2 linked regions of the Homo sapiens genome follow. The protein of the gene in region 1 interacts with the protein of each later gene in a biochemical or structural test. Each region holds a gene or a part of one and is shown in the gene's direction. Other genes may lie near its edges. The genes, in order: U2AF1 and CIRSR.

Evidence for each region.
Region 2: the proteins of U2AF1 (region 1) and CIRSR form a complex in vitro, tested with the Homo sapiens proteins (one study listed by BioGRID).

What each region holds. Positions count from the first base shown.
Region 1 is NC_000021.9:43,092,433-43,097,838, reverse strand, and holds the end of U2AF1 (splicing factor U2AF 35 kDa subunit), read left to right. Parts: intron 1-2,095; coding exon 2,096-2,145; intron 2,146-2,302; coding exon 2,303-2,401; intron 2,402-3,050; coding exon 3,051-3,184; intron 3,185-3,275; coding exon 3,276-3,368; intron 3,369-4,589; coding exon 4,590-4,737; 3' UTR 4,738-4,883; downstream 4,884-5,406. UniProt on the Homo sapiens protein: Plays a critical role in both constitutive and enhancer-dependent splicing by mediating protein-protein interactions and protein-RNA interactions required for accurate 3'-splice site selection. Recruits U2 snRNP to the branch point.
Region 2 is NC_000002.12:174,385,493-174,392,783, reverse strand, and holds part of CIRSR (corepressor interacting with RBPJ 1), read left to right. Parts: intron 1-5,004; coding exon 5,005-5,099; intron 5,100-7,291. UniProt on the Homo sapiens protein: May modulate splice site selection during alternative splicing of pre-mRNAs. Regulates transcription and acts as corepressor for RBPJ. Recruits RBPJ to the Sin3-histone deacetylase complex (HDAC). Required for RBPJ-mediated repression of transcription.

The sequences.
Region 1 (5,406 bases):
AAAGATAAAAAGGGGGCCGGGCACGGTGGCTCACGCCTGTAATCCCAGCACTTTGGAAAGCCGAGGCAAGTGGATCACGAGGTCGAGAGATTGAGACCATCCTGGCCAACATGGTGGAACCCCGTCTCTACTAAAACTACAAAAATTAGCCAAGATCACGCCATTGCACTCCAGCCTGGAGACAGTGAGACGCCGTCTCAAAAAAAAAAAAAAAAAAGATAAAAAGAGTTTTGAGCAAGCTCAAAGACCCGTGTGCCAGCAGTCAGATGCCCACGTTGGGTGCACAGGCTAAGGCAGCCGGCCCAATCTGGAAACCAGTCAGGCTTTTGCCAGCCCCTAATCTAGCTGATTGGAACATGTTTGTTGATACACCAGCTCTGTGATTTCTCAGGTTTAGAGAACTCTAGAATTTGATAGAGTGGGCCGGGGGCAGTGGCTCATGCCTGTAATCTCAGCACTTTGGGAGGCTGAGGTAAGCAGATCACGTGAGGTCAGGAGGTTGAGACCAGCCTGGCCAACATGGTGAAACCCCGTCTCTACTAAAAATACAAAAATTAGCCAGGCATGGTGGTGCGCGCCTGTAGTCCCACCTACTTGGGAGGCTGAGGAAGGAGAATTGCTTGAACCTAGGAAGTGGAGGTTGCAGTGAGCCAAGATCACGCCACTGCACTCCAGCCTGGAGTGGACAGAGACTCCATCTCAAAAGAAAAAAAAATTAATTAAATTTGATAGAATGATGATGGGGATAGAGTGTAAATTTGCCAAATTTACCCACGCAACAGACATGATTTTACCTAATACATGTGAATTATGAAGAATAAACTGATGAAAATAGTTTGGGAATATAAAACTTAAGAATACTTGCGCCGGGCACGGCGGCTCACACCTGTAATCCCAGCACTTTGGGAGGCCGAGGCAGGTGGATCACGAGGTCAGGAGTTCAAGACTAGCCTGGCCAAGATGGTGAAACCCCATCTCTATTAAAAATACAAAAATTAGCCGGGCGTGGTTGTGGGCGCCTGTAATCCCAGCTACTCAGGAGGCTGAGGCAGAGAATCGCATGAGCCCAGGAAGCGGAGGTTGCAGTGAGCCGAGATTGCGCCACCGCACTCCAGCCTGGGCGACAGAGTGAGACTCCGTCTCAAAAAAAAGAAAAAAAAAAGAATGCTTTCATCAGCAAAACATTGTAACATTCCCTTTACTTGAGGGCGTCCACAATACCGTAAGGTTGCGTGAACTGTCCTACTGAATCTTCATGGTTGCTTGGATTTTAATCACATCAGAAGAATTTGAGAGCATACCATGGCTGGCAGTCCATAAAAGACTAGTTAGGAACATCAGCTTTTAATCATCGACCCTGCTTTCAGGTTTCATTTTAAACTTATAGAAGAGGGGAAGACATCAGTGTGCTTATTTGGCCTTTACTCTAAATCTTAAAAGGAAGAAAATTTTAATATTTCTTAGTTTGAGCCCAGGTGCGGTGTCTCACGCCTGTAATCACAGCACTTTGGGAGGCCAAGGCAGGCGGATCACTTGAGGTCAGGAGTTCAAGACCAGCCTGCCAACGTGGTGAAACCCTGTCTGTACTAAAAATTAAAAAAAAAAAAAAAAATTAGCCGGGCGTGGTGGCAGTCGCCTGTAGTCCCAGCAACTCCAGAGGCTGAGACAGGAGAATCGCTTGAACCCCAGAGGTGGAGGTTGCAGTGAGCTGAGATGGTGCCACTGCACTCCAGCCTGGGCGACAGAGCCAGACTGCATCTTGTGGGTGTAAAAAAAAAATTTGTAGTTTGAGAGTCAACTTTTTCCTCACAGTTTCTGAAAATGTGGCCCTTTTGATGCTGATTAAAGCTGGTTGTGATTTTAACACCTTAGTAGCCAGAATCGAGACTGTCATGGGGACATTTAAAATCTCACCACACTTGACACCATTCACAAGTAGCCATGTGGCTCAGTCTCCTGAGTGCTCCTGCAGAGTGCAGCTCTGCCAGGCTTTTCTCTAGATAATCTCGTGTGTGTTACTGTAGCAGTTTGAGTTTAAACACAAGAGTTCACTCGGTTAACATGTTCTAACCAGCAAGATTTCTGTTGTTTGCAGGTGCCGTGAGCGATGTGGAGATGCAGGAACACTATGATGAGTTTTTTGAGGTGAGAGAACTGAACTCTGTGACTGATAGACCTGTTGATCTTCTGTATCTGTTTGGAAGGATTTAAAATGTTTCTCTGCTAATAAACATACATGAGTTATATCTAATGACACTTTGTAATGTATAACGAGTCTTAAACCACTGTGGTCTCCCTTCAGGAGGTTTTTACAGAAATGGAGGAGAAGTATGGGGAAGTAGAGGAGATGAACGTCTGTGACAACCTGGGAGACCACCTGGTGGGGAACGTGTACGTCAAGGTAGGAGCCAGGGCGAGACGGCGGCGTGGCCGCTTAGTGTGCCAGGGCCAAGGCCAACAGGCGAAAGCGAGACAGTGGTGCAGCCGCTTAGTGTGCCGGGGCCAAGGCCGACAGAGGATGGGGTGCCTGTCGCCATGCACCTTGAGATCCTGGATGCTCAGGCGCACAGCAGGGCTCAGGTGCACTGGCTCGGCGCCTACCAGCTGCGTCATATGTGGCGGTGGCCAGCCCACACGTGCGCCCAGCCAGCAGAACTGAAGGACGGACCGTACACCACAGCCATCGTTATTTCAGTGTAGAATATTTAGTACCTGTTGGTTTAGAAGCTGTGTGGACTAAGGAAAAGTTAGGTTTACTCACATGTTTGGTTTCTTTTTTCTTTTTTAGTGAATAAAACTTTATTTGCCTACACAGCCATATTTGCTCCTTTAACCAGTTGAATTTGAAAAATGAAGGCAACATTTGGCAAAATCTTGGACTATCTTGAAGTTAATCTCATTGAAAATAAAGGATTTTTCAATTATCCTGTAATACTATTCCACCTTACTATACCTGAGTGTGTATATCTCTCTCTGATATACTTGGATTGGTAATTGAGAAAGTCTTATTAAAGCGTGGATGGCAAGCACTTCTGTTTTTGTCTTTTCAGTTTCGCCGTGAGGAAGATGCGGAAAAGGCTGTGATTGACTTGAATAACCGTTGGTTTAATGGACAGCCGATCCACGCCGAGCTGTCACCCGTGACGGACTTCAGAGAAGCCTGCTGCCGTCAGTATGAGATGGGGTGAGTGAGGAGTGGCCAGTGACGTGACTGAGCACAGTTCGGGGCCGTGTGCACACGAGGTAGTAAATGTCTCCTTCCAACCCACCCACAGAGAATGCACACGAGGCGGCTTCTGCAACTTCATGCATTTGAAGCCCATTTCCAGAGAGCTGCGGCGGGAGCTGTATGGCCGCCGTCGCAAGAAGTGAGTATTCCTGTGCCCGTTGTTAAGCTCAGTGGCTTCTTTCTCCCCTCACAACCCTCCCCCTTCCAAAAAAAAAATTTTGGCATAGGTGTCGTTTCTGTTTTTTAAAAGGCAGTGCTTAGAACATAGTACATATTTTTAAATATCCAAATGTCCTCTTTGGAGAAGAATATTCACCTGCACACAGGTAACTTCATTATCCAACTTCTCAAGTAGAGATCAGATCTTAGTAATCAAGCAAGAGGGCGGTTAGCTGGGCAGCCGCGGACATGAGGCTCGTGGTGAAAGTGGGCATGCAGTTTATTCTCCCAGATATTACGAAGAAGAAGAATAGATGTTGTAACCTCCTTTAGATCAGGGATGGCTTCCCTGGGACACATTGGAAGAAGAATTGTCTTGGGTCACAAATAAAATACACTAATGATAGCTGATAACTTTTTTTTTAATTGCAAAAAAAATCTCATAATGTTTTAAGCAAGTTGATGAATTTGTGTTGGGCTGCAGGTTGGACAAGCTTTTGCTTTACATATTTCACATGTCCACTGGGGTTTCTTTTGGTTTTGCTTGTTGGTTTTAGGGCATTTCATTATGTCTTGGGATCGCTGGCATCCTCCCTTCGGGACACTGGCAGAATCAGGCCCAGCGGTCACATCTCTCTGATCCTACATTTAAATGTACGACAGGTCACAGAGCAGAGAAAATCAAGACGTCAGAATCGAACCGATTGAGTTCTGAGTCTGGAGAGGTTCTCATCCCTCTTCTGTTAAACATGGACTAGTAAATAGATGGGTGGCGATTGTTTTATTGTCAGCATTCAAGAAGCATAAGAGAAAAACAGGCCTGCTCTCCCCAGCCCAAAAACCTGATGGACACAGTAGCTATGAGCGCCTGAAGCGTGGGGTCAGTGAGGGTTGAAGATGGTATGTGTCCAGCTCATTTTGATTATGATTTCCTGTGACCATTTGAGTTGGTTCTAGAAGAAGACAGAAGATGCAAGGTATTACACCTGTTCACTTCTAAGTTGCACATTTTTTTCTCCTGAAACTTTTCACACCTGAAATCAGGGTGTGTCTCAGTCACGGCGTGCAGTCTCTTCAGCAGTGTTTTTCCTTATCAGTGCCGTTGGCTTGAGGAGCTGCGCGTGTTGAGAGAGTGGGTGTGGTTCTGTGCTGCGTGCCGTGGTTTGGATGGCACGGTTTTCTTTATTTTCCTTGGTTGCAGGCATAGATCAAGATCCCGATCCCGGGAGCGTCGTTCTCGGTCTAGAGACCGTGGTCGTGGCGGTGGCGGTGGCGGTGGTGGAGGTGGCGGCGGACGGGAGCGTGACAGGAGGCGGTCGAGAGATCGTGAAAGATCTGGGCGATTCTGAGCCATGCCATTTTTACCTTATGTCTGCTAGAAAGTGTTGTAGTTGATTGACCAAACCAGTTCATAAGGGGAATTTTTTTTAAAAAACAACAAAAAAAAAAACATACAAAGATGGGTTTCTGAATAAAATTTGTAGTGATAACAGTATTCTTGGTGTAACTTATTTCTTGTGGAAGTTCTTTAAATTTCTTTTTCTTTATAAATCTGCTAGTCATCTTGGAGGTAAAGATTAATATCCATCCACCACTTTGAGTATAAATGAAATAATATTTTTTATCTTAGGGCATGAAATAAAACACATACCAGGTGAGATCTACATGCTAAATAATCCGGAATTTCTCGAGGCTGTCATGGAAAGCCTTTTGGGGTTTCTTTTCTAACTGGTTAGTGAAGAAGTGCTTAGCTATAATCAGTAGACACGCTGTAGACTGCACTGATGTTGGGAAGAAGGCTGATCTGTGGTGAGACACAGTGGGTGGGCCCGACCCATGTTACCTTCTCGTTCCTGCGAGTTTGTGTCAAGAACCCCATGTGTTCGTGGGAGGGAGCGTGGATGCTCACACGGCACACTGAGGGCCAGTAGTCCGTGTCCGTGTTTCCTTATGCCAATGGCTGTGGGAGACACAGAAGCCTGCGGTGCAGATCCGCCTTTAGACACTCTGGTATTACT
Region 2 (7,291 bases), on another chromosome or scaffold:
TTTACCCCAAATCAGCCCTTTTTATACTTGCTATCTCATATGGGTAGAAATATAGATAGTAAAACAGTCCCTCATCCTGTTGCCCAAACCAGAAGCTCAGGATTCATCCCTTTTCCCATCACTCCTTTATCTAGTCAATCACTGAATGCTATTGGTCTTACCTTCCAAATATCTCTTGAATCCATCTTTCCTTTCTGTCACTGCTGCTTGTGTCTTAATTCAGACCCTCATCATCTTTCACCTATATTGTTGCATTTCCTAAGTGGTTCTACTGCCTCCAATCTTGAGTCCTCTCAAATCCATTCACTACACAGCCATCAGAATAGTCATTTTTCATTTTAACAGCTCTGCTGAGATAAATTTACATATCATACAAACACCCATGTAAAATGTACAATTTAGTGGTTTTTAAAATGTATTCATGGAGTTAAGTAATCATTACCACAAACAATTTTAGAACTTTGTCATCACCCCAAAAAGAAACCCCCGCTGGGCATGGTGGCTCACACCTGTAATCTCTGCACTTTGGGTGGCTGAGGTGGGTGGATCACCCGAGGTCAGGAATTCAAGACAGCCTGGCCAACATGGTGAAACCCTGTCTCTACTAAAAGTACAAAAATTAGCTGGGTGTGGTGGCGGGCGCTTGTAATCCCAGCTACTTGGGAGGCTGAGGTGGGAGAATCGCATGAACCCGGGAGGCGGAGATTGCAGTGAGCCAAGATTGCGCCACTGCACTCCAGCCTGGGTGACAGTGAGACACTGACTCAAAAAAAAAGAAACCTGCATACCTGTTAGTCACTCCCATTTTTCCTTAACTCTTCTCCCTCTCTCCAGCCCTAGGCAAGCACTAATCTACTTTCTGTTAGTGGATTTGCCTATTCTGGAAATTCATTTAAATGGAATCATGCAATCTGTGGTCTTTTTTGACTGGCTACTCTCACCATAATGTTTTTGAAGTTTATCCATGGTATGGCATGTATTGGTACTTTTTCCTTTTTATTGCTAAATAATATTCCATTGTATGAATGTAAGTTATTTCGATAGAATTGTCTTTTTTTAAGCACAAATCTGATCTCTTTCAGCCTGTTATTAAAATATTACAGGATTGAGTCCAAGTAATCTCACTCCATCGTTTTTCTCCTTCTCCCCTCCTACTATTCTCCCACCTCAGATTTATTTATTTATTTATTTTTTGAGATGGAGGCTCACTCTGTTGCCCAGGCTAGAGTGCAGTGATGCAGTCTCAGCTCACTGAAGCCTCTACCTCCCAGGCTTAGGTGATTCTCCTGCCTCAGCTTTCCGAGTAGCTGGGATTACAGATACACACCACCACGCCTGGCTAATTTTTGTATTTTTAGTAGAGATGGAGTTTCACCATGTTGGCCAGGCTGGTCTCAGACTCCTGACTTAAGGTGATCTGCCCACCTCAGCCCAACCTAAGATTTTATATGTTAGTAATATTGAACTACTTACGTTCTATTTTATATCTCTGGGCCTTTGCCTGAGTCATTCTCTCTGCCAGTTATATCTTGCCCTGTTTTTTTCCTTGGCCATGCCTTGATCCTTTTCAAAACCCTGTCAAATGTGTGTGAAATTACCTGTGTATTGAGTTCTTGCAGCAAAATTTTTAATAGCAAAATACTGGAAATTTCTTAAGTGCCCATTTATACAGTATGAGATAAATAAATTATAAATTATGGTATAGTCCCACAATATGCAACTTTACCACCCAAAAGAAGAAAGTGTTTGTTTACTGATCCATATTAGTCTTGTATTAGTATTAGTCTGTTCTCATGCTGCTATGAAGAAATACCTGAGACTGGGTAATTTATAAGGAAAGAATTTTAATTGACTTGCAGTTCTGCAGGGCTGGGGAGGCCTCAGGAAACTTAAAATCATGGCAGAAGGGGAAGCAAACACGTCTTTCTTCACATGGTGACAGCAAGGAGAAATGCCGAGCAAAAGAGGAAAAGCTCCTTTTCTGATGGTTTTATCCATCAAATTTCCTGAGAACTCACTCACTATCACGAAAACACCATGGAGGTAACAGCCCCTTTTATTCAGTTACCTCCCATCGGGTTCCTCCCACGATACGCGGGGATTATGGGAACTACAATTCAAGATGAGATTGGGTGGGGACACAGCCAAACCATACCATTCCACCCCAGCCCCTTCCAGATCTCATGTCCTCACATTTCAAAACACAATCCTGCCCTTAACAACCAAAGTCTTAACTCATTCCAGCATTAACTCAAATGTCTAAGTCCAAAGTCTCATGTAAGACAAGGCAAGTCCCTTCCACCTATGAGCCTGTAAAATCAAAAGCAAGTTAATGACTTCCTGGATACAACAGGAGTACAGGCATTGGGTAAATACACCCATCCCCAATGGGACAATTTGGACAAAACAAAGGGGCTACAGGCCCCATGCAAGTCCAAAATCCAATAGGGCAGTCATTAAACCTTAAAGTGCCAAAAGGATCTCCTTTGACTTCATGTCTCATATCCAGGGTGTGCTGATGCAAGAGGTAGGCTCCCAAAGCCTTGGGCAGCTCTGCCCCTGTGGCTTTGCAGGGTATAACCCCTCTCCTGGATGCTTTCATGGGCTGGTGTTGAGTGTCTGTGGCTTTTCCAGGCACATGGTACAAGTTGGTGGATCTACTATACTGGGGTCTGGAGGACAGAGGCCCTCTTCTCGCAGCTCCACTAGGCAGTACCCCAGTAGGGACTCTGTGTGGGGGCTCCGACCCCACATTTCCCTTCCGCACTGCCCTAGTAGAGGTTCTCCAAGAGGGTTCCACCCCTGCAGCAAACATCTGCCTGAACATCCAGGTGTTTCCATACATCTTCTGAAATCTAGGCAGAGGTTCCCAAACCTCAGTTCTTGCCTTCTGCGCACGTGTAGGCCCAACATCACATGGAAGCTGCCAAGGTTTGGGGCTTGCATTCTCTGAAGCAGTGGCCATAGCTGGAGTGGCTGGAATGCAGGGCACGAAGACCAAAGGTTGTACCCAGCAGTTGAGAGGCTGGACCCGGCCCAGGAAACCACTTTTTTCCTTCTCCTAGGCCTCCAGGCCTATGATGGGAGGGGCTGCTGTGAAGGTCTCTGACATACCCTGGAGACATTTTCCCTTGTCTTGGTGATTAACATTCGACTTCTCATTATTTATGCAAATTTCTGCAGCCGGCTTGAATTTCTCCCCAGAAAATAGGGTTTTCTTCTCTATTCCATTGTCAGGCTGCAGAATTTCCAGAATTTTATGCTGTGCTTCCTCTTGAATGCTTTACTGCTTAGAAATTTCTTCTACCGGATACCTTAAGTCATCTCTCTCAAGTTCAAAGTTCCACAGATCTCTGGGGCAGAGGCAAAATGCCACCAGTTTCTTTGCCTAGCAAGAGAGACTTTTACTCCACTTCCCAAAAGGTTTCCCATCTCCATCTGAGACCACCTCATCCTGGACTTCATTGTCCATATTACTATCAGCATTTTGGTTAAAGCCATTCAACAAGTCTCTAGGAAGTTCCATACTTTCCCACATCTTCCTGTTTTCTGAGCACTCCAATTCTCTAGGAAGTTCCAGAGTTTCCCACATTTTCCTGTTCCAACCTCCACCTGTTACCCAGTTCTAAAGTCACTTCCACATTTTCGGGTATCCTTTTAGCAGCCCTCCATTCTACCTATACCAATTTACTATATTAGTCTATTCTCACGCTGCTATGAAGAAATGACCAAGACTGAGTAATTTATAAAGGCAAGAGGTTTAATTGACAGGAAACTTACAATCATGGCAGAAGGGGAAGCAAACATGTCCTTCCTCACATGGTAGCAGTGAGGAGAAGTGCTGAGCAAAAGAGGAAAAACCCCTTATAAAACCATCAGATCTTGTGAGAACTCACCCACTGTCATGAGAACAGCATGAAGTGTAACCGCCCCCATGATTCAATTACATCCCACCGGGTCCCTCCCATGACACATGGGGATTATGGGAACTATGATTCAAGATGAGATTTGTGTGGGGACACAGCCAAACCATATCAGATCTCCATGATATATAATTTTATTTTATATATATTTTGTGTGCGTGTGTGTGTTTGCGTAAAATATGTTACCATTTATATAAGAAGAATGTGGTATATGTTCTTTTGCATATATATATATATTAGAACATCTTGGAAGGATATATAAGAAATGTATAACATTGACTACCTATGAATATAGTTAATATAATTTAAACTATAAATACAGCTTTGAAAAAACCCAAACTTGCTATAAAGCATTCTGTGGACTGGGCACAGTGGCTTACGCCTGTAATCCCAGCACTTGGGGAGGCTGAGGCAGGCGGATTGCCTGAGGTCAGGAGTTCAAGACCAGCCTGGCCAACATAGCGAAACCCCTTCTCTACTAAAAATACAAAAAAATTAGTTTGGTGTGGTGGCAGGGTCCTGTAATCCCAGCTACTCCGGAGGCTGAGGCAGGAAAATCACTTCAACCTGGGAGGAAGAGGTTGCAGTGAGCCAAGATCATGCCATTGCACTCCAGTCTGGGTGATAGCCAGACTTCGTCTCAAAAATAAAAAGAACTCGTATCAAGACACTTCAGATTTTTCAGGTGTTAATTTGTAATGATGTAATTGCGGCCAAATTGGATTATGTTGTAAACTTTCAGCCAAGTTTATCCAGCTCTTGGCCTGTGGGTCACATGTGGCCCAGGACGGCTTTGAATGTGGCCCAACACAAATTTGTAAACTTTCTTAAAACATTATGAGATTTTTTTGCCCTTTTCTTTTTTTTAGCTCGTTGGCTATCGTTAGTATATTTTGTGTGGCCCAAGACAATTCTTCTTCTTCCACTGTGTATTAGTGTGTTTTCTGTGGCCCAGGGAAGCCAAAAGATTGGGCACTCCTGCTTTAAACAATTGCATTTTATATTTTATTATACAAGAAAAGCAAAGTTTGTTTAATTTAAATCCAACAATTTAATTTGCATTTTTACTTCACTAATCTAGGTATGGATGGCAGAACAGAAAATATCATATGATAAGAAGAAACAAGAAGAATTGATGCAGCAATATCTTAAAGAACAAGAATCATATGATAATAGGTAAGAAATTCTGTTATGCCAGTATATCTAGAATTATCAATTTCATGGGAATAATTTCCTACTGAATGATATATTAAGTCAGTTTTTTGGAATCAAATACCCAATTATAGGATTCGTGTCTTTCCGTGAGGGCTATCTCTTTTACTCTCATACCTGTAGATGACCACTTTTTCCAGCTTTACCCATAATTCACGTAAAATATAGATTCACGTGACTCATATACAGTCTTTGAGCAAGTCTCAAATTAGGCAAAGCTTAGAAGAACAATCATGTCTACACTTGAACTGCTGAGACCTCTTACAGACTTATTTCTTTAACACAAAAGATACCCAGCATACTTTCAAGAGGAAAGGTAAAGTGACTTTATTTGACACGCATGTCATTGTTCTGTTAAAAGCTGTTTCGTGGCTAGAGTTCTTCATTGGTGTCTTCTAACATGGTACCTGCCTTTAACTATTGTGTTTGTATATGCAGATCTAACACTGAAGCTGGTTTCTCTTGGTTAATCTTAAGCCACTGAATAGTGGTGTTTTGGTAAATTGCCCATGAAGTTCAGTTTTCAATCAAAATATGGAATTTAGCAAACTAATACTAAACTATTACTACTCTTTAAAATATAATATATTGAGAGGAAAGTTAAAGAAATAAAAGTTAAGTAGCTTTCTCACTAATTTTATTTAATCTTAGTAACTTTTATTGAGTACTCCATGCATGGCAATAAGTGGTATTATAGGGACCTATAAAAGTGTGTGAAGTGTAGTTTATCCTTAAGAAACCCTAGTAAGAGATACAAATACATATAGTTGAAGGCCAAATATAATAACTGATATATTAAAAACATACACTGCTTTTAAAAATACAGCATGTTAGTATAGGAAATAATAATTCCATTTAGGTTAACAGAAGACTTTATGGAAGAGGTGACATTTAAGCTGAACTCTGAAGAATGATAAGGATTTAGATAGGTGGTTCTCAACTGAGCGCCGTTTTTTGCGCCCTCCCTGCCACCCTGCCCAGGGAACGTGGCAATGTTTGGAGACATTGTTTTGATTGTCACAACTGCGGACTGGGGTGCTATCAACATCTAGTGGGTGGAGACTATGGATGCCGCAAAACAGCCTACAATGCACAGGACAGCTCCACACAACAAAGAACTATCTAGTTCAAAATGTCAATAGCATCACTGTTTAAAAACCCTAATTTGGTCGGGCGCAGTGGCTCATGCCTGTAATCCCAGCACTTTGGGAGGCCAAGGCGGGCAGATCACCTGAAGTCGGGAGTTCGAGACCAGCCTGACCAACATGGAGAAACCCCGTTTCTACTAAGAAATACAAAGTTAGCCAAACCTGGTAGTGCATGCCTGTAATCCCAGCTACTCAGGAGGCTGAGGCAGGAGAATTGCTTGCACCTGGGAGGCAGAAGTTGTGCTAAGCCAAGATCACGCCACTGAACTCCAGCGTGGCCAACAAGAGCGAAACTCCGTCTCAGATAAACAACAACAACAAAAACCTTATTTTTATATTATTAATAGTAAAAACATATTGGAAAATGGAGAGGGTATTCAGGAAACAGTTGTTGAGTTAGAGGGATAAAAACAGAGTGGAGGTGAAAAACTAGGTTTGAAACAGATCACAGTGTTCATGTTTATTCTTTATCTTTAAAAAAAGTTACTATTTTCCCTTTTAATTAATATTTGAAGCCCTGCAAATACCCTGTTTCTCCTTGGACTTTTGCCTAATTTTGGTATTCATCAGTAGATCTTGCTTGCATCAATTATATATTTCTGTGATGTTCTAATGGTTATTTTCTATTTCTATCATTCCCTCTACATTTATTAATTTGAATTCCTCTGTAAGGAAGAATTTCCCTTATCTAGTTACTATTAATTTTCTATCAATATGGACTCATGGCTGTTTATTTAATTCTTTGGATTATAATATAATACTATTGTTACTTATTTTCTTGCTCCAGTTGTTTCAGTTTGGGCCATTGAGAGCTCTGTTAGATTGGCTCGTATATCCATTTAACATGCACCAACCCTGTTTTGTTTTGTTTTTTTAATGCTGCTTCTGGTCCCACAAGGTGGTCAGACTCGTCTTTTATTTTCCCTGCTGCAGCATTGGAATCAACCAGTTTTCTTAGGCACCCAGATTCCTTTCATTGGTGAATGATATTTAGAAACCACGATCTGA